Homo sapiens: one gene and its partners. The protein of the gene in region 2 purifies or fractionates together with the protein of the main gene of each other region. This does not show direct contact. Each region holds a gene or a part of one and is shown on either strand. Other genes may lie near its edges. The genes, in order: PRMT2, GTF2H3, ICOSLG and PRDM11.

What was found.
Region 1: the proteins of GTF2H3 (region 2) and PRMT2 purify together in Homo sapiens (affinity purification with mass spectrometry, with the first as the bait; one large-scale study listed by BioGRID). This does not show direct contact.
Region 3: the proteins of GTF2H3 (region 2) and ICOSLG purify together in Homo sapiens (affinity purification with mass spectrometry; one large-scale study listed by BioGRID and IntAct). This does not show direct contact.
Region 4: the proteins of GTF2H3 (region 2) and PRDM11 purify together in Homo sapiens (affinity purification with mass spectrometry; one large-scale study listed by BioGRID and IntAct). This does not show direct contact.

Annotation. Positions count from the first base shown.
Region 1 is NC_000021.9:46,645,556-46,650,033, forward strand, and holds part of PRMT2 (protein arginine N-methyltransferase 2), read left to right. Parts: intron 1-2,902; coding exon 2,903-3,064; intron 3,065-4,019; coding exon 4,020-4,184; intron 4,185-4,478. UniProt on the Homo sapiens protein: Arginine methyltransferase that methylates the guanidino nitrogens of arginyl residues in proteins such as STAT3, FBL, histone H4. Acts as a coactivator (with NCOA2) of the androgen receptor (AR)-mediated transactivation.
Region 2 is NC_000012.12:123,636,326-123,640,803, forward strand, and holds part of GTF2H3 (general transcription factor IIH subunit 3), read left to right. Parts: intron 1-2,938; coding exon 2,939-3,018; intron 3,019-4,478. UniProt on the Homo sapiens protein: Component of the general transcription and DNA repair factor IIH (TFIIH) core complex, which is involved in general and transcription-coupled nucleotide excision repair (NER) of damaged DNA and, when complexed to CAK, in RNA transcription by RNA polymerase II.
Region 3 is NC_000021.9:44,237,520-44,242,505, reverse strand, and holds the start of ICOSLG (ICOS ligand isoform a precursor), read left to right. Parts: upstream 1-1,562; 5' UTR 1,563-1,688; coding exon 1,689-1,702; intron 1,703-3,681; exon of another isoform or gene 3,682-3,908; coding exon of another isoform or gene 3,909-3,966; exon of another isoform or gene 3,967-4,017; coding exon 4,018-4,058; intron 4,059-4,986. UniProt on the Homo sapiens protein: Ligand for the T-cell-specific cell surface receptor ICOS. Acts as a costimulatory signal for T-cell proliferation and cytokine secretion. Also induces B-cell proliferation and differentiation into plasma cells.
Region 4 is NC_000011.10:45,144,534-45,149,811, reverse strand, and holds the start of PRDM11 (PR domain-containing protein 11), read right to left. Parts: upstream 3,174-5,278; 5' UTR 2,935-3,173; intron 2,470-2,934; exon of another isoform or gene 2,231-2,469; intron 1-2,230.

The DNA of each region.
Region 1 (4,478 bases), on a different chromosome or scaffold from region 2:
ACAATCTCTGGTTACATTTTAAAACTAGATGAAAACAGTTACTTGCAGGATGAATGTTATAAAAATGATGTTAGTTGAAAGAAGGAATAGGGCAAAGAATCTATAACGTTTGACTCAATTATATAAAGTTAAGAGGCCATATTAGAAGGTTTTTTGTTTGTTTTTGTTTTTTTTTTTTTGAGACGTAGTCTTGCTCTGTCACCCAGACTGGAGTGTGGTGGCAGGATCCTAGTTCACTGCAGCCTCTGCCTCCCGGGTTCAAGCAATTCTCCTGCCACAGCCTCCTGTGTACCTGGGACTACAGGTGCGTGCCACCATGCCTGGCTAATTTTTGTATTTTTAATGAGGGGGTTTTGCCATGTTGGCCAGACTGGTCTTGAACTCCTGGCCTCAAGTGATCCTCCTGTCTCAGCCTCCCAAAGGGCTGGGATTACAGGCATGAACCATTGCGCCCGGCCGGAAGGTACTGTTTGTGAGTGTGCATGGGTGCTGAGACTGACTGAGGGCAGGAGTGGCTCCCCTGTTGGTTGAATGGAGGTTACCTGCTGGTAGGGGAGGCTCTGGGACCAGCGTGGCTGAGTCAGGAGTTCTGACATGCTGGCAGTGTTCTGGGGTTGGATATAGGTATAGAGGTGTTTGCTATATAACAATACTTGACTAACTCTGCAGATACTTTTTATTGCACTTTTTCGCAGGTATGCCATATTTCACAATTAAAAGTGTTAAAAACTATTCATGTCTGTACATGGTTAGTGATTTCTATCCGTTAAGGAAAGATACATAATGAAAAGCCAATTCCAGCCTCCCACCTCTGCCGCCTCTCAGCTCAAAGAACCACTGCCCACCAGATTCCTCTGTGCTTATGAAGTCCAAGTGACACCTAATGTATTTTACGTTTTTAATGTATAGAAAAGGCATTGTTCCACCACTCAGGTCTTCACCTTGCTCTTTTCACGTAGCTGTAGTATTTTGAAGATCTCTCATATTGGCACCTGTCACTCTTTATAACAGCTGCAGAGCGTTGTGTTACTTTAAAAGGGTCCTGTTGATATTTGGACAGTGGTTATTTAATAGCTTTTTATCATGATAAATAATGCTGTAATGGAGTCCTGTATAATCCTGTTAAATGCTGTTTAGAATTTCTATAGGGTAAATTCCTACGGGGTGTGTGTGTGTAGTGTGTACATGTGGTTTCCTTAAGTGGATCTTGCCAGTTCGCCCTCCAGAAAGATTTGCTAATTATACACTTGGTCTGTTTGTGCTGCTGTAACAAAATACCTTAGACTGAGTGAATTATGAAGAACAAAGCTTTGTTTCTCGCAGTTCTGGAGGCTGGGAAGGCATTGGCATTGGTGTCCAAGATGGCGCCTCATGGCTGTCCTCACGTGGTGAAGGCGGGAGGGCTGGGAGCACCTCTTTCACCACAAACCCTTTCATAGTAACCTCCAAAGGTGGCCTCTTAATGCCATCACACTGACGATTAAGTTTCAGTACATGGATTTTTGGAGACATTTCAGACCGTGGCATGATGGTGTGTGAAAGCTCATTTCCCTACCACAAATCAAAGTGAAAAAGGACTTTGATCTTAAAAGTTAAATATGGCATCTTTTAGTTTTGATTTCCATTTTTTAAGTAAGATTGATTATCTTTTATGTGTTTATGGGCCTTTTGTATTTTTTCTTTTTTTGTAAACTTTCATATTATTTGCCCCTTTTGATTTTTGTTGATTCGTGTGTTAAGTAATTTAGCCTGAATTTGTGAAGTTTTGTGACTTTGTGAAATTTTTTCCCACGTACAACTTTTTTCTTTGTATAGCCTAATATGGTTTTCTTTTCTTTGTGACTTCTTTTTCTTTTCTTTGTGAAAAACCTTCCTCACTATAAGATTATAAATACCCACACTTTTGTTTTCAGAACTGTTATGATTCTGTGTTATTTTATTTTTGTTTTTTATGTTTTTTAGAGATGGTGTCACACTCTGTCGTATGAGTGGCTGGAGTGCGGTGGTGCAGTCATAGTGCACTGTATCCTCAAACTCCTGGGTTTAAGGGACCTTCACCTTAGCTTCCCAAAGTACTGGGATTACAGGGGTGAGGCACCCTGCCTGGCCTTCTGATTCTATTTTAAACAATGAGATTTTAAATAATAAAAAATCTAGAAATTATTTGTTGTAAAAAATATAATGTAAAATTCCGCCCTAATGTATGCCCACAAATCTCCAGCGACCCCAGCCTCAGTTACTGGACAGTTCCCTTCGCGTTGATGTGAAACGGTGCGTTTGTCCTGCTCTGGATTTCAGGGGTCTGCTGTAGAATTCCTGTTGTTTCACTGGTCTGTTTACTGCAGTTCCCAGTGCTTCGTCATTTCCATCACTGCACCTTTGTAGGATCTGCAAGAGCTAGGTCTCCAGCAGTTCTTTTTTTTTTAAAGCATTTTCCTCATTAGCCTTGGGCACTTACTGTTTTGAAACTAATTTTATTATCATTTTGTTGTGCTTTCTCCTTTAGTAGGTACTGCATGGAATGTTTATGTTAATTTTGGGAGAGCTGACATCTTTATAACATTGACTCTCAGTCTCTGATTACTTAAGCTTTGTTTAATATCTCTTAGTATTTTAAGATAAGGACAATATCTCTTTGTCATACATGGTTGTGCACCTTTCTTGTTAAATTTGTTCCTAGGTATTTTTTGTGTATTATTACTGTTATAAGGGGGTGGGTGAAGTGTTCTCTAAATACCAATGAGATTAACTTGGTTGACAGTGATGTCCAGGCCTTCCATAGTCTTCCATAGGGGTGTTGGGGTCAGGGGTCATCAGCTGTGGCTCTGACCCTCCATCTCAGTCCAGACCTCAGCATGGCTCTAGGTCACAGGCAGTGATTCTGAATGTGCATTTCTTCCAGAAACTCCACTTGGAGATGTTGGCAGACCAGCCACGAACAACTAAATACCACAGTGTCATCCTGCAGAATAAAGAATCCCTGACGGATAAAGTCATCCTGGACGTGGGCTGTGGGACTGGGATCATCAGTCTCTTCTGTGCACACTATGCGCGGCCTAGAGCGGTGAGTGGGGTCTCGAGCGCATCCCGGGTGTTTGTGCCGAGGCTGGTGACGTCCGAGGTGGCCTCTGAGTGTGCTGACTTGTGACCCTGAGCTGTTGGGGGCTCACCGGTGACTCCATGGTCTTGTTGAGCACCCTGCACGTGGGGCTCAGGGTCGGTAAAATAGCAGTGCGTGGAGACCGCGTGCTAGAGGCCGTGGCGCCCGCGTACAATGAGTCGCAGACAGCACAGACGGGAGTAGGGCAGAATAGACAATATCCCGTGAATTGCGTGGGGCGGGGTATGTTCTGTGAGACGTTTATTTCAGTTGAGTAGAGAAACACGTGCACCCACATGTCTGTGCTGGGCCTTGGGTGTGGTTGGTCTCATGGGGTTGGGAGGGATGCACACGCTGGGCCCCCTCCCCACCCCTCTTAGGCCGTCTATACTGTGCTGAGCTGAGCCGAGCTGCAGCCTTGGAGACTCCTTACACAGTGGGTGGGGTCGCAGCACAGTGTCCACCCAAGTCCAGGCTCTGCAGGACCCAGGACCCAGCGCTTGGGTGCTTCCCACCAGACCCTTCCCTGAGAACCTGGGTTTGAAATTGTCTGACAGGCCTCAGATGTGGCACAGACCAGCATTGTCACTTGGGTGCTAAGAAGTTGCTGTGCTGGTCATGGATTAAGATTGCTGTGCGTGTGGCAGCCGGCTCGGGCATGCGAGTCTTCCATCCACTTGCAGCCCTGCGTCTGTGTCTTGTCCGGGAGGTGGGGGCAGTTGGGAGGGTTAGAGGCGGCTCCTTTCTGGGTGCCCCTGGAGGGGCAGGTGTGGCCAGTCCTCGCTGCCTCTGCTGTCTGGAATGCTGCTTCCCTCTTGTGTCATTGACCATTTCTCGTGATGCTGGTTGTGACTCAGGAGAGTAGATGACGGGCCGTGTGCCGGCCGGATGTACGCTGACGGTGCCTCTGCTGCTGCAGGTGTACGCGGTGGAGGCCAGTGAGATGGCACAGCACACGGGGCAGCTGGTCCTGCAGAACGGCTTTGCTGACATCATCACCGTGTACCAGCAGAAGGTGGAGGATGTGGTGCTGCCCGAGAAGGTGGACGTGCTGGTGTCTGAGTGGATGGGGACCTGCCTGCTGGTGAGGGCGGGCGTGCGGGCAGCTGGGGGCCGGAGCTGGGGGGCTTCTGAGCACGGGCTCGGCTGGGCCAACCTCAGGATCTCAAGGGTCGTGCGTGATTCATTTTGATGTTTTCCCTAATGTGAGGTCTAATTAATTTCTTGTGTGGACATTGGCTCAGTGTCTTGAATTTTCACCTGATTTAAAAAATGCCTTTATGAGAAATTTAAGTCAAAGTTCATGTAACATTTTCATGAGTGATTTACATGAACTGTGTTCTCCTCGGGGATCTGTAAAAATCCTGTGCCTAACAGG
Region 2 (4,478 bases):
AGAAAGAGTTTGCGCTGGTTTGGGGCTTTGAGGAGTAATTGGGATTTGAATACACAGAAATCAAAGATGGGGTAGAGATTCTCCTAATGTAGAAGACAGGACTGCAGGAAGCAAAGTACGGAGGGAGGAAAGGCATTACTGCTCTTTGCTATTAAATGAGCATCCTAGAGCCGGGCACGGCGGCACATGCCTGTAATCCCAACACTTTAGGAGGCTGAGGTGGGAGGATCACTTGAGCCCAGGAGTTCGAGACCAGCCTAGGCAACAAAGTGAGACCCTGTCTCTACAAAAATTTAAAAATTAGCCAAGTGGCTGGGTGTGGTGGCTCATGCCTGTAATCCCAGCACTTTGGGAGGCCAAGGCGGGCAGATCACCTGAGGTCGGGAGTTCGAGACCAGCCTAACCAACGTGGAGAAACTCTGTCTCTACTGAAAATACAAAATTAGCTGGGCGTGGTGGTGCATGCCTGTAATCCCGGCTACTCAGGAGGCTGAGGCAGGAGAATCGCTTGATCCCGGGAGGCGGAGGTTGCGGTGAGCCGAGATCGCGCCATTACACTCCACCCTGGGCAACAAGAGCAAAACTCCGTCTCAAAAAAAAAAAATAATAATTAGCTGGATGTGGTAGTGCACGCCTGTTGTCCCAGCTGTGTGGGAGACTGAGACAGGAAGATCACTTGAGCCCAGGAGGTCAAGGCTGCAGTGAGCTATATTCGTGGCACTGTACTCCAACCTTGAGACCTTGTCTCAAAAATTTGTTTAAAAATACATAAATAAATAAATGAGCATCCTGGGCCTTTCATAACAGTGTATACTCACAGGTTTGTATGTCTGTCTGTCACCTCAATTAGAGTATAGTCTCTTTGAGGGGTTGGACCCAGTATCCCCAACACCTAACACTGGTAGTGTGAAAGTTTGTTGAAGGATTAATGTGTTTGGGGTGGTGCGTGCATGTAGTCCTTACTACTGGGGAGGCTGATGCAGGAGGATCACAAGCCCAGGATTTCAAGACCAGCCTGGGCAATTTATTGAGACCCCCCCATCTCTTAAAAAAAACCCAAAAAACAAAAATCCAAATGAATGATTAATGTGTTGTGGTAGCCTGTTTAGTTTAGAGAATAGAATTCCTCTTAACAGTAAAATCTTGACGTAGGAATTGCTTTTCCCTCTGTTTTTTAACTTTTTTTTTTTTTTTTGAGACAGAGTCCCACTCTGTCACCCAGGCTGGAGTGCAGTGGCAAGATCTCAGCTCACTGCAACCTCTGCCTGCCAGGTTCAAGTGATTCTCCTGCCTCAGCCTCCCGAGTAGCTGGAATTACAGGTGTGCACCACCATGCCCGGCTAATATTTTGTATTTTTAGTAGGGACGGGGTTTTGCCATATTGGCTAGGCTGGTCTTGAACTCCTGACCTCAGTGATCTGCCCACCTCAGCCTCCCAAAGGGCTGGGATGGGCGCCCAGCCTGGTTTTTTTACCTTTTAAAAAGTGACTCTTAATTACGATTGGCCTTGCTGCTACATGATTTGATGAGTACGGGCCAAATTGACAGCTACGCCTCCCTTTAATTTTTTGCTCCTGAAATTCTACCACTGGGATTCCTACTACTAGTTAACCAGTGCCTTCTGTCCTTGACCAGGCATTCAGAATGCAGTAGGTGGTTTTGTTTGTTTGTTTGTTTGTTTGTTTGTTTCCAGACGGGGTCTCATTCTGTCTCCCAGGCTGGAGTGCATTGGCAGGAACATGGCTCACTGTAGCCTCGACTTCCCGGTCTCAAGCGATCCTCTCTCCTCACCCTCCTGAGTAGCTGGGACTACAGGCATGTGCCACCATGCCCGGCTATTTTTTTTTCCCCGAGATGAAGTCTTGCTCTGTTACCCAGGCTGGAGTGCAGTGGTGCAATCTTGGCTCACTGCAGCCTCCGCCTCCCGGGTTCAAGTGATTCTCCTGCCTCAGTCTCCCGAGTAGCTGGGATTACAGGTGCTTGCCACCAAACCCAGCTAATTTTTTTTTTTTTTTGTATTTTTAGTAGAGATGGGGTGGCTCAACATGTTGGCCGGGCTGGTCTTGAACTTATGACCTCAAGTGATCCCCCCTCCTTGGCCTTCCAAAATGCTGGGATCACAGGCATGAGCCACCGCGCCCGGCCCTAATTTTTATATTTTTAGTAGAGAAAAGGTTTTGCGATATTGCCCAGGCTGGTCTTGGGAACTTCTGAGCTCAAGCCATCTGCCTGTCTTGGCCTCCCAAAGTGCTAGGACTACAGGCCTGTGCCACCACACCTGGCCCTCGTTCAGTAGATATTTATTGAGCAGCTGCAATGTGCTAGGCAGTGTGGTAGGAGTGAGGATAAGCAGTGAACAAAAGAGACAAAAATTCCTACCCTCACAGAGTTTACATTTAGTGCATTGGAGATATAGTGGTTCAGGACGTAGACAAGAACTTGCTAAGGGCCCACTGTGCTTTAAAGCTTTTTTTTTTTTTTTTTTTTTGAGACAGAGTCTTGTTCTGTGGCCCAGGCTGGAGTGCAGTGGCGTGATCTCGGCTCACTGCAAGCTCCGCCTCCTGGGTTCACGCCATTCTCCTGGCTCAGCCTCCCGAGTAGCTGGGACTACAGGCGCCCACCACCACGCCCATCTAATTTTTTGTATTTTTAGTAGAGACGGGGTTTCACCGTGTTAGCCAGGATGGTCTCGATCTCCTGACCTCGTGATCTGCCTGCCTCGGCCTCCCAAAGTGCTGGGGTTACAGGCGTGAGCCACCACGCCCTGCCCAGCTTTAAAGCTTTAACTGGGTCTTCTGTTAATCTCATAATTATAAGGTGATAAACATTTAAGGCATATAGTGGTGCTCTGGATTTAATTTATGAATTGGGAATGTTAGCTTTGATTCATTTTTATGGAGCTAATGTTTTAAATTTTATTTCTTGTTAATATTTTCAGAAGATGAATTGAATCTTCTGGTTATTGTAGTTGATGCCAACCCAATTTGGTGGGGAAAGCAAGCATTAAAGGAATCTCAGGTAAGACTGCTTGAGGAGGCCTTTGGAGAATTCTGGTTTAACTGAGTGTTTATATTGCTTTTTTAAAAAATGGCTTTATTAAAGTATAATTTACATACTGTAATATTCAGCCACTGTACAATTCAGTGATTTTTTTTAAGTAAATTTGCGAAGTTGTGTAACCAGCCCCACATTTCTGCTTTAGAATATTTCTTTGACTGCGTAGCGTTCCCTCATGCCTGCTTGCAGTCAATCCCTGCTTCTATCTCCAAGCTGCAAGCAACCACTGATCTGCCCTCTATCTCTAAATTCCCTTTTCTGGACATTTCATGTATTGATTTCATACAATATGTGGTCTTAAAAAATACTTTCTATTTTGAAATATTTTATTTTTAAATAATATAGACATAGGAAACCAGAAAAGATACAGAGAGGTCCTGTGTACCCATCACTCAAGTTCTTTCAGTGGTGACATTTTACATAATGATAGTACAATTTTGAAACTATCAGTGCAATCTACAGACCTAAGCAGATTGCAGGTTTTACATGTGCTCACTTGTGTGTATGCGTGCGTGCGTGTATGTGTGTGGTTCTGTGCAGTTTTACCACATTCATTGATTTGTGTGTCCATCAGCACCACCATCTCATGCCTCAGCCTCCCGAGTACTTGGGACTACAGGTGCGTACCACCATGCTCAGCTAATTGTTTGTATTTTTAGTAGAGATGGGGTTTTGCCATGTTGGCCAGGCTGGTCTCGAACTCCTGGCCTCATGTGATCTGCCCGCTTTGGCTTCCTAAAGTGTTGGGATTATGGGAGTGAGCCACCGCACCTGGCTGATTCTTCATGTTTGTTCGTTTGTAATCTGGTCCCACTCTCGACCACACCTTCTTTGCCTGTCTGTACTCCCAGGCAACTCTTGATCTCTTTGTGTCACTGTAGATTAGTTTGGATTTTCTAGATTTTTTTCATGTAAATGGAATCAAACAGGTTATAGTGGGGAGGTTTTTGTGGCCTTTTTTTTTTTTTTTTGAGACGGAGTTTTGCTCTTGTTGCCCAGGCTAGAGTGCAATGGCGCGATCTCGGCTCACTGCAACCTTTGCCTCCTGGGTTCAAGTGATTCTCCTTCCTCAGCCTTCCGAGTAGCTGGGATTACAGGCATCCGTCACCACGCCCAGCTAATTTTTTGTATTTTTAGTAGAGTTGGAGTTTCACCATGTTGGCCAGGCTGATCTCGAACTCCTAAACTCAGGTGATCTGCCTACCTCGGCCTCCCAAAGTACTGGGATTACAGGCATGAGCCACTGTGCCTGGCCTTGTCTGTTCTTTTTAATGACAGGTTAGCTGTTTTCCACTTTTAAATGGTTTAAAATAAAATCAGAAGAATAACATTTTTGTGACTTGAAAATTATATGAAATTCAAATTTCTGGGTCTATAAATAAGCCTCACTCATAAATTTATGTATTTTCTGTGGCAGCTTT
Region 3 (4,986 bases), on a different chromosome or scaffold from region 2:
CCTGGGCGTGTCCCGGGAAGCGCACGTCCACGCTGGCGCTGGACCGGGTTTTCTGACTCCAGGGACGGGACTCGTCCTAAAGAGTCCGGCTCAGATGCGGTTACGCGCCTCACCTCACCCGGGTGCGGACCGCCAGTGCCTCCGCCCTGCACTCCGCGGGCCCTGCCCAGCTCTTCCCGCCGGAGGGCAGGTGGCCCCCGCCCCGCCCCTGCCAGGCGCGCGATTTTAAATCCCCCCAACCCCCGTCTCTCAGCGTGGCCTGGGAGGGGGAAGCCGCCCGGCTTCAGGGCTTCCTGCGCCTTCGCCGCCGCCCTCCCTGCCCTTCCCCGCCGCCGTCCCCCCTATCCCCCCAGCCCGTCTCTTCCGCCTTCTTATTTTGTGCCTGGGCTCTCTGCTCCGCAAAAATGTTGACTTCCCACGGGCAGAGGTTTCAGAATTTTTTTAAAGCTTTTGTCCACGGCGTTCTCTACATCTTGGTTGAAGGAATGGCAGCCTGCGGGGTGCCGTCTGGGGCCCCCGTCTCCCTGCGCTTCTCGCCTCCTCCATGCGCAGGAGGCGGTGGGGATCCGAGCCTCAGCCCAGAGGCGGGGGCTCCGGGAGGAGGGTGCCCCGCTGCCCTGTCTAGCAGCCTCACCCAGGCCCTTCCGGAGGTGCCTCTGCAGAAAGGGAGTCACGTCCCCCCTGGGCCTCACCTGGCTTGCAGGGATCAGGGAGGGAGGGCGGGGTGGGCTGGGTGCGGTGGGGAAGGAGCAGGGACTCTGGGTCCCACCCTCGGTTGCGTGGTGCAGCCTTTCCCAAACCAGCTGCCCCAGACTCCAGGCCAGACGCCACTGCCAAGGCTGACGAGCCCAGAGCCGCAAGCCTGCCTCGGTTTCTCGGCGGGGGATCCTCAGAGCCAGTGTTAAGCAAAGAGGCTGCGCCAGCGCCCTTCACACCCCTAGAAGGCTAGGGGAGCAAGGCTAGGTGGGGGCGGGCTGGGGCTGGCCCAGAGGGTAGAGCCCGCCCACTTTCCCTCCCTCCTTCCATTCATGCATGCGTTCATTCAGTCATTCATTCCTCAGCAGTCGCTGAGCTCACTCGCCTTAAGTCCTGGAGATCATCGGAGCGCAGCCGGCCAGGGGCCTGGCGCTCTCCCAGCCTTGGGGCCTGGGTCCCCGGACTCCTGCTCGGGGAGGGCCGCAGGACCGGCGCATTGTGCGCGGCGCGGGGAACGGCCCTTGCCTCCCACGGTGCCCTCCCTCGCTGCGCCGGCACCCGCAGCACCCCTGGCCACCTTCCTGCCGGGTACCCCCCACCCCTGCGCTTCCCAGGGCACCTACGGCGCCCAGGTCCGCGTCCAGGCGGACAGGCCGACCTGCCTCTGTCCCGCCTCCGGCCGACGGGCACACGCCTGGGCAGAGCCGAACTTTCCGGAGCCGCCGCGCAGCGCCCCGCCTCCTGTCCCGGGGCGGTCTCGGTCGCCAGAGGAGCCAGGCCGGGGGCGGGGCGGGGACGGGGCGGGGACACGGCTGCCTCCAGCACACCGCGCGCTGGGCGCTCAGAGCCTCGGGCGCGGCGGGAGCGCAGTTAGAGCCGATCTCCCGCGCCCCGAGGTTGCTCCTCTCCGAGGTCTCCCGCGGCCCAAGTTCTCCGCGCCCCGAGGTCTCCGCGCCCCGAGGTCTCCGCGGCCCGAGGTCTCCGCCCGCACCATGCGGCTGGGCAGGTGAGCCGGGGAAGGAGCGGAGGCGCCGCGGTCAGGGGCGGGGTGGCTCGGCCCGCGCGTCCCCAGCTCGGCTCGGACGCGGGGCCTGCGGGGCTCGCCTGGAGGTGCCGGGCTGGCAGTGCGGGTCCGAGGAGCGGGCGGCGGAGGCGCCGGGGCGGCCGGCGGGGCGTGGACGGCAGTGGGCGGCGGGGCCTGGCACCGGGACCCATGGCAGGACGCACAGCCGTGCGGGGGCGGGCTCGGGGGCGGGGTCCCTGCCAGGGAAGGAGGACCGCGAACGCTGGAAGGAGGGAGGGAAGGCGGGCGCACCCTGCACGCCGGGGCACGGGCGCTGCCCCTTCCACTCCCTGGCACTGCTGATTTCCTAGAAGAAGGGAGAAGGAGGGAGGTGACCGGCCGAGCGCTCTCCAAGGCCAGCTGGTGCCCACGGTCTGCGGACACGCCCTCCCCCACACACGTGGGATTCCCCGCAGCCCGGCAGCCGATCCACACTGGGGAAGGCGGGGCTGCCTGAACCAGGAGTGACAGCTTCCTCCTGGATTTTTGCGAAAATATCCAAAATATACTCTTCGCAACCCACGTTGTAGGGTCCGCAGCCTGTGCTCCCCTGGGTGAACCTGTGAGGCCCCTGACCCCAGGGATGCCTCCCGCACAGCTCAGAGCTGGGCCACACCGGAGTCACACTCCCCAGGTCCCCTCCCCATTAGAAGTGTATGCAGTTATGATCCTGCCCTAGAGAGAAAGAATTTAAAGGTCCCGGAATGTCATAGCCCTCCCAAATGTCTTAGCCCTCCGCCACCCACACCTTCAGGTAGGCGGCCCTGTCCATGCTGGGTCTTGAGGCAAGCTCGGGGTGGGGGTAGGTTAGATGCAGGGGTGCTGAGGGTCCAAGGAAAGGACACAGAGGCCGCTGCTTAGGCAGCACCCAGGGAGGGGACAAGCCAGAAACAGCCTGGAGCAGGCACCCCCCACCCTGGCCCAGGAAGCCCCCAGATGTCCTGAGGAGGCCTCCATAGACAGGAGGGGCCTTGTGGGCTGGTGATGAATATGGGCACTGTGGGAGACAAATGGGGGCACAGAGGAGTTCTCACAGCTGTCGTTTAGATGGTGGCTCTGGGGAAATGCTTGAAGGGGCTAAGGGTGGAGGCAGGGGGCCTGCTGGAGGCCATCACAGCCATCTTGCCAGCCAGAATGGTGGCCCCAACAGGGGGAGTGGGAGAGAGAGGAAGGGCCGCCTGCAGACTTCAAGAGCCCCTGGTGGCCAGGGGCCGCCTTGGTGCATGTGTGCTCACTTGGCACAGACACACCTCCATGCAGACTCAGATGACAGCCATCGTGGGTGGGGCAGGGGTTTCTGTGGCTCCAGGGCTCAGGGACAGCCCACTGGGAGGTTCCCACAAGACCAACCTTTGACTTACAAAGCCCCCAAGCTTTCCCAGGCAGAGGCCACAGAGAAGAGGGATGAGCGTCTCCCAGACCTTGGAGGTGCAGGGACATCAGAGAAGGAGATGTCCCTGCTCCTGGGGCTCTTGCTTCATGGGGAGCTGGCCCCAGAAACTGATGGTTTGGGGGGCTGGGGTAAGCACTGCTACCAAAGTGGTCCCGGCCACTAAGGGCCCCCACGTGGGGAAGGCATCCTGGGGGCTGGCGGGAGGAGGTGGCGAGCCTGTGGCGTGCAGGGTGCAAAGGCTCCCAGACCCAAGATGGCAGGGGCATTGGAGTCACGAGGGGAATTTGCTGCCCGAGGCAGGGGCACCAGCTGCAGCAGGATCTGAAACAGGAGGAGCTCAGGTTTGGTTTCAAAATGATCCGCGTTCCGCACAGGGCTGTCCCGTCACTCACCTGACCCTGTCACGGGCACGCCTGATGTTCTCCGTCTCCCCAGCATTTTAAGTGACACTCCTACTATATGTGCCCTGAAAGCTTTTTTTTTTTTTTTTTTTTCTGATTTCCTACAACTTCTTGGCATCTGTCCCCAGGAAGGCTAGACCAGCCTCACTGGCGTCCCTCGCTCCCCTTCATCCTCACGCCAGCATCACTGTGTTTCTGGGGATTTGTTACCGCGAGAGCTAGAGAGTGGTGAGAGGCTGCCAGCCCCTCGGACTTGCTGTGCTGGGCAGGAGGGTGGTGGTCCTGGCCCCGGACCCCGAATTCCCATGGAGAACAGAGGCAGGCAGGCTCCTGGCTCTGCCTTCACATTTCTGTGATGGGCTTAACTACCTCCTGCTCATGGGAACCAGCCTGTTCCTGTTTGGAAGATACAGGTAACTCCCTGGTGGCCCCGCCTCACCTGCCTTTCTGGTTGTTTTTTCCAGTCCTGGACTGCTCTTCCTGCTCTTCAGCAGCCTTCGAGCTGGTAAGTTCAGGGGGTGCTTTGCCATGGGGCGCCCAGCTCAGAGATGGGCTCTCCGGCTGTGTGGACTGCTGGCCGCAGGGCACTGGGAGCAGCCTCACCAGGCTCCTTCTTGCTTCTCAAGTGGTCCTTTGGAGACAGTTGGACCCTAAACCTAGGTTGCTGCACAGGATAGAAGCGTTTCCTTAAAGGGAAACACTTCTGCAAACTCCGGAGTTCTTGTTTGACTCCGTCTTTGTTGCGGGCAGAATGCAGTTCCTCTGAGCCAGGGCTTCCTGGGTCCCCTGGTCTCCCTGTCCCAGGCAGCAGCCCTGCTGAGCCCTAAGAGCCACCAGCCTCTGGAAGAGCCAGGAATAAGGACGAAGCACCGCAGCACAAACCTGAAACCTTGCCAAGCCTTCCAGCCCAGAGGGCTTTGGGGGCAGGGGACACACACAGATTTTCCTGCAGGTGCCAGGTGCAGTGGCTCACTCCTGTAATCCCAGGACTTTGGGAGGCCAAGGCGGGTGGATCACCTGAGGTCAGGAGTTCGAGACCAGGCTGGCCAACATAGTGAAGCCCGATCTCTACTAAAAATACAAAAAATTAGCTGGGCATGGTGGCGGGCACCTGTAATCCCAGCTACTTGGGAGGGTGAGGCAGGAGAATGGCGTGAACCCCAGAGTCGGGGGTTGCAGTGAGCTGAGATCACGCCATTGCACCCCAGCCTGGGTGACGGAGCAAGACTCCATCTCAAAAAAAAAGATTTTCCCACAGGCATTTACGTAGCTGCACAAACAGTAAAGCTACCCTGTGTCTGCCACATTTGTGACAGCTTTCCTACTGCAAGTGAGCAGCAATATAATGTAATTGCTGAGAAATTCTTTTCCCTTAAATGCCTTTCCCTTAAAGAACTTTTTATTGTGCATTAATTATAGACTCCCGAGAAGTA
Region 4 (5,278 bases), on a different chromosome or scaffold from region 2:
AAAGGTTTAGTTTTCACTCATGTTGCATGTCCATCATGGGTCACCAAGGGCTTCACGCACGGAGTGACACAGGGACTCAGGCTGGCAGCAGCCACCACCATCCCGCCTTACTACCAGTTGCCATGCCACAGGGAAAGTGCACTGTGGAGGGTCTCACACCAGCAATTAAATGCTGTGGCCCAGAAGTGACGTGAATCACTGTCATTTATAATTCACCAGCCAGTCATGGGGCCCCCACCCAAGCGCAGGTAGAGCTCCAGTCAACCTACTGTGGAAATGGAAGAACCGGAAATAGTAAGAGGAAAGCACTAAGGACCACCAGACACTCCCATCCCACTGTGCCCTTTGCTAACCTTAATTTATTCATTAGATGACAACAGCTCAAGGATTTGAGGAGGAAAGGCCAGCCTATGTAGGAGAGATCGGGGTATGGAGTTCAGAGAGATCTAGGAGAGGATAGAAGATGAGGTCAAGGGCAGGGGCCAGATCATTCGGTAGCTTTTAGGTCACTACACCAATTTGGTTCTTTATCCCCAACACACTGGAAAGACTTCTAGGTGTTTAAAGCAGGAAATGGGATGCCTGATATGATCCTATTTGGAATGGATCACTCTGACTGCCATGAGGGGGTGACTGCAGGTAGACATTAGGAGGCTCTTGCTGTTGTCCTGGGGAGAGACAGCGATGGCTTGACTACAACACTGGGGAAGAGGGGATGGAGAGAAGTGGATGGGTTCATTTGAGAGGATAAAGTTATCTGGGTCTGGAGATGGAGTAGATTGGGGTGACAGAGACAGAGACACCAAGGCTTCTGCCTTAAAGAGTAGTGGGACAGTGTGCTCTTGGCCAAGATCAGAGCCCTAGAAGAGGTTTAGAGAGGAAGATTATGGACACCTTTGGCCACTGTGGGTTTGTCATGCCTATGAGACAGCCAAGAGAGCAGGCCAAGAAGGCAGCTGAATCCACAGGCAGGACTCCCGACTCCTACCCCAGTGTTCTTTACTTTATACTTGCCAACAACCTGGAACCAGGGAAACTCCCTGTAAGTCCAGGAGAGGGCAGATCCAAATAGGAGAAATCCTACTTGACACCAAGGAGAAGAAATTGATGGAACACATCAACCCAAGAAGTCTAGACGACAGAACTGTAACTCAGGTCAAATGAGTCCATAAGTGCAGAGGTGATGGCTATCATGACCAATCTAGGACTCCTAGGACAACTGAGGGGAGTCCCTCATCTTTGTGAACGTCACCAGGGAAGGAAACGAGACCCTGCCACCAGCTGTTCCTTGGGGCCCTGTCAGTTTGAGACTGGATGGACCACGGTGGGGTCTGTGGGGGCAATTCTGATATTCCCAGGTCAGTACCTTCTGCCGTGATTCTGGGGGAGAACACTTCTTAAACAGTATGCCAGGCCCTGGAACAGGCATTTCATCTTTGCTATCTCATTTAATTTCACAACTTCCTTGCCGGGCAGGTTTTGTTGGACTCAGGGATGGAGACACAAGGCTCAGAGAGGCCAAAGACAACGATGTGAAGTCCAAAGTCAGACAGTGACTATGAGGAGGAGGTAGAATTCAAAGAGAGAAAGCCTTTCCATTAAACTGAATACAGCAAGAGGTCTGGGCTCTATTCCCAGAAGGGAAGGTTTCTACACGTGCCCTATAGAACTCTGCTTGTCCACCTTTCAGAGAGTCGGCGGGCAAAGACTGTGCCCTGCTCCCCAACTACGACCCTACACCTCCAACAATGACCCTAGGAAAGCCCGAACCTTCCTCCCTCCCAAGAGGAAATGTGGGCAAGGACCAGCTTGGTTGCTACAGGCATCATGCTCCACAGAAAATTCTTCTGTCCCCAAACCCCCAAAGTTTATAGGGTTTCCAGGTACCAAGAGCAATCTCTCATCATTGCCTCCTGGCCCCACGCACAAAGGGCTGGGTGTGTTTCCTTACAGCCACTCTAAATTATACAGCACAGCCTTTCTCCACACGAAGCAAACGTCTAGGAAAGAGGAGACGTTTCACATTTTTCTCCCCTAAATCCCAGCCCAGCCTGGGGGGTTCTAAGCCCCCATCTCCCAACTGGGCTCTAGACACACACCAGCAATTTTTCACCAGCATCGCCCAAGACATTGGTATTCTCTTTGCAGCGACTCGCCTAGAGCACGCTGGCCTTGACCGGAGAGAGGTCATTGGCCGCTAAGTTTCTGCAGTTTCTGCATAGGAGAGTACCTTGGGGACTGCGAGTGGGGGGTGGAGGCTACGCTCCGGAGAGGTTTCCCGAAGAGTCTACACCGCAACTGACACTTAAAACGCATTCCAGAAATGCCCTCCGGCTCGGCCACGCTTCGCGGGCAATCGCGAACCGCGATGGAGAAGGCTTCGTCGCATCCCAAAGGACGCCTCCCACCTTCATCCCCGAGCACCCCGCAGCAGCCCCCGGCGCGGGGCCGAGGGCGTCCGCGAGAACTAGGCCGGCGGCCGCGGCGAGCCCTCTGGCGTCGGCGTCCGCGCCCCGCCCCGTCCGTGTCACCGCGTTCTCATTCCGAGCGCTCGGCCCGGGCCGCCACTCCCATTGGTCGGCGGCCACGTCCGTCAGCGGGCGCGCCGCTTGCGGAGAGAAAAGGCTACATTGTAACAAGGCGAGGAGCGAGCGAGCTGGGAGGAAGGAGGCGGAGGGCGGCCCCCGGCTCCCGCGGCGGCGGCAGCTACCTGCCGAGGGTTCACCCACCTCGCGGCCACGGCGGGCCGCCCCCCACCCCGCGCCGGCGCCGTCCGGACCCCCGCCCCGCGCCCGCGCCGAGACCCCCGGCCGCCCCCGCCCCCAGCCGCCGCTCCCGGCCCCCGCACCGGCGGCCCCCGCGCTCGCTGGCAAACTGCCGAGCGCTCTCCGAAGCCATTTTCAATGGCCACATTGGCTACCGGGGCTGACTCACCTTCCCGGGAATGCTGCGGCAGCCGCGGGGCCCGGGCGGCGAGAGCGGCCCGGCGGGCGGCTCGGCGGAGGCGGCGCGGCCTCGGCTGGCGGCCCCCGCGGAGGGAGCGGCCGCGCTGCGGGCGCGCTGGTCCCCGGCGAGGCAAAGTTTCAGCGCCAGCCTCGGCGCGGCGGCGGCGGCGACTCGCTGCTGCTCTCCTCCCCTGCTTTGACCACCATCTTATTAGTACAGGAAATGACATGGAAAACGGAAGAAAGCGGCGTTTGGGGCAGACGCGGACCCCCCAATTCAGGGGCCGGAGCCGGGACTCACCAGCCGCGTCCCGACCCGGCCCCGGAGAAAACTCCCGGGGCCCCTTAGGCCCGCGCCCTGCCCGGAGGGGGGAACCCGGCTCTCCAAACCCAAAGGGAGAGGGAGCGTTTTATAATCCAGCCCGTGGAGAAATCGAGAAAAAAATAGATGAAAAAAAGAAAAGGTTAAGAGAGAACTTTCGAACTGGGATACTTTTTTGGGGTCAGAAGTAAAAGTTCTCAAATTTTAATAAAGTCATTGTGAGGGGGGCTCCCTGGCTCTCCCGGTCGCGTGGCTGTCCATTTGGAACCAAATAGTCGGGGGGAGTCGACGCGTTTGGATTTTTAACCCTTTCAGGGCTCCGCGGCTGGCCCCCTCCCGGTCCCATTTAACCCTTTGAATGCTCAGCAGTTTGGAGATACAAACTGAAGTTGCGAGACGCAGGCGTCCCGCGAAGGCTGAGGGTGAGGGGCTTGGGGTTCGTTAAAAATATTAACTCTTTATGTGGGGTTGCGGTTTTGTAGTCACGAATCGCACATGTTCTTCAAGTCAAAATATGTTACAGAGGGAGAGAGATTCTGAGAACTGGAGGGGCTGGTCCCTGGCTGGCTTGGAAAAGATGTTTAAGCGGCATTCACTTGCTCGATTCCTCAGTTTCTCCATCTGTGAAATGGGATTCGACATCACAGAGAGGGGGTGAAGAGGGAAAGACTGGGCCGGGGGTGGAATTGTCACAGAGTGCTTGAGTGCTTGACATGCTTTCCTGAGCGCCTGGAAAACTGACAGGTTGCGATGGGGCTGGAAGCCTTGGAGGAGGGCAAGGGACACTGCAGGGTGGCGTAACCAGGACAACCATTCCCCAATCAACCCCTTTCTCGTGGCGTCCTCTACAAGTCCTGTGGCCCAATGGCGACGTCTCTCCTACCAAGGGAGGATGCTCTGTGCAAGCTCCAAAATTGGGGCAGTAAACCCCAGTTGGTGATTCCCAGGAAGGCACCTGGGCGAGGCGCTGTCCAGTGCTTTCCCCAAACATCCACGAAGCCCTGCAAGAGTTGCCCAGACGGCCCCCAGAGGGTACTACCCCAGGGAAGCCTCCTCCCAAGGCGGAAGGAGTTCCGTGTCAACCTTGCTGCTGGCGATCCGCAGATGGGCGTTCATGGTCAGATGGGCGTTCATGGTCAGATGGGGGTGCTCATGGCTTTTGGAATCTGGATGTGGAGCTGGAGGCGGTGGGGGTGATGAGGGAGGGAGCACTGTGGGTACCACATCATTTGTTTCCCTTGACTCTGGCGTCACAAACACAGCTTCTTGGAATCTCATGCCTGTTACTGGCTGTGTGATCTGGAGCAACTGGCTTCACCTCTCTGAGCCTTTATTTCCCACATCTGCAAAGTGGTGCACAGTAATACCCACGTTCCTGGCTCTGTGTAAGGAGCCATGAGAGTGTATTTAAAGGGCCCAGCACCCAGCTGCTCTCAGTAGATGCTCAAGAGACAGTAACAACCCTATCGTTATATGAGGTTCAATGCAACTGTAAGTTTCCTGAGTATTTCTCTGCTTGGTGCCAGGCAGAGTGTCGGGTACTGGGGGACGGGGGTTGGGGGAGGGGTTCCACGATTAGAATGACAAGATCCTTCAGGCAGGTCTTGGTCTGCCCAAGAGATGAAGGCACTCGCAGATAACTTCAATTAATTCAGAACTGAATGCACCTCCAGTTGCACTGAGCATGGTTTTGGATGCCAAGTGCCCGGCCGAGAAAAGAGCACTGAGGAAGGAGCCATTTGTTGTTCCTTTTGAGGAGAAAGATTCACCAAGGAAGTAATGTCAGAGGTAGGCCTGGAATTTCCACCAATGGTAGGATGGCATTGCCAGGAAGGCAAAGAGCAGAAGCAAAGACCTCGAGGCGTCAACGTACCCAGGGTGTTGGACATGTGTCCTGCAGTGACTGGGGTAGAGGGTGAGGCAGAGATATCGGAGATGAGGGCAAAAAGAGAAGTAGATAAAGGAGGGGAGTGGTCCCATCCTCCAGAGAGCAAAAAGATCTTTAAGAGAA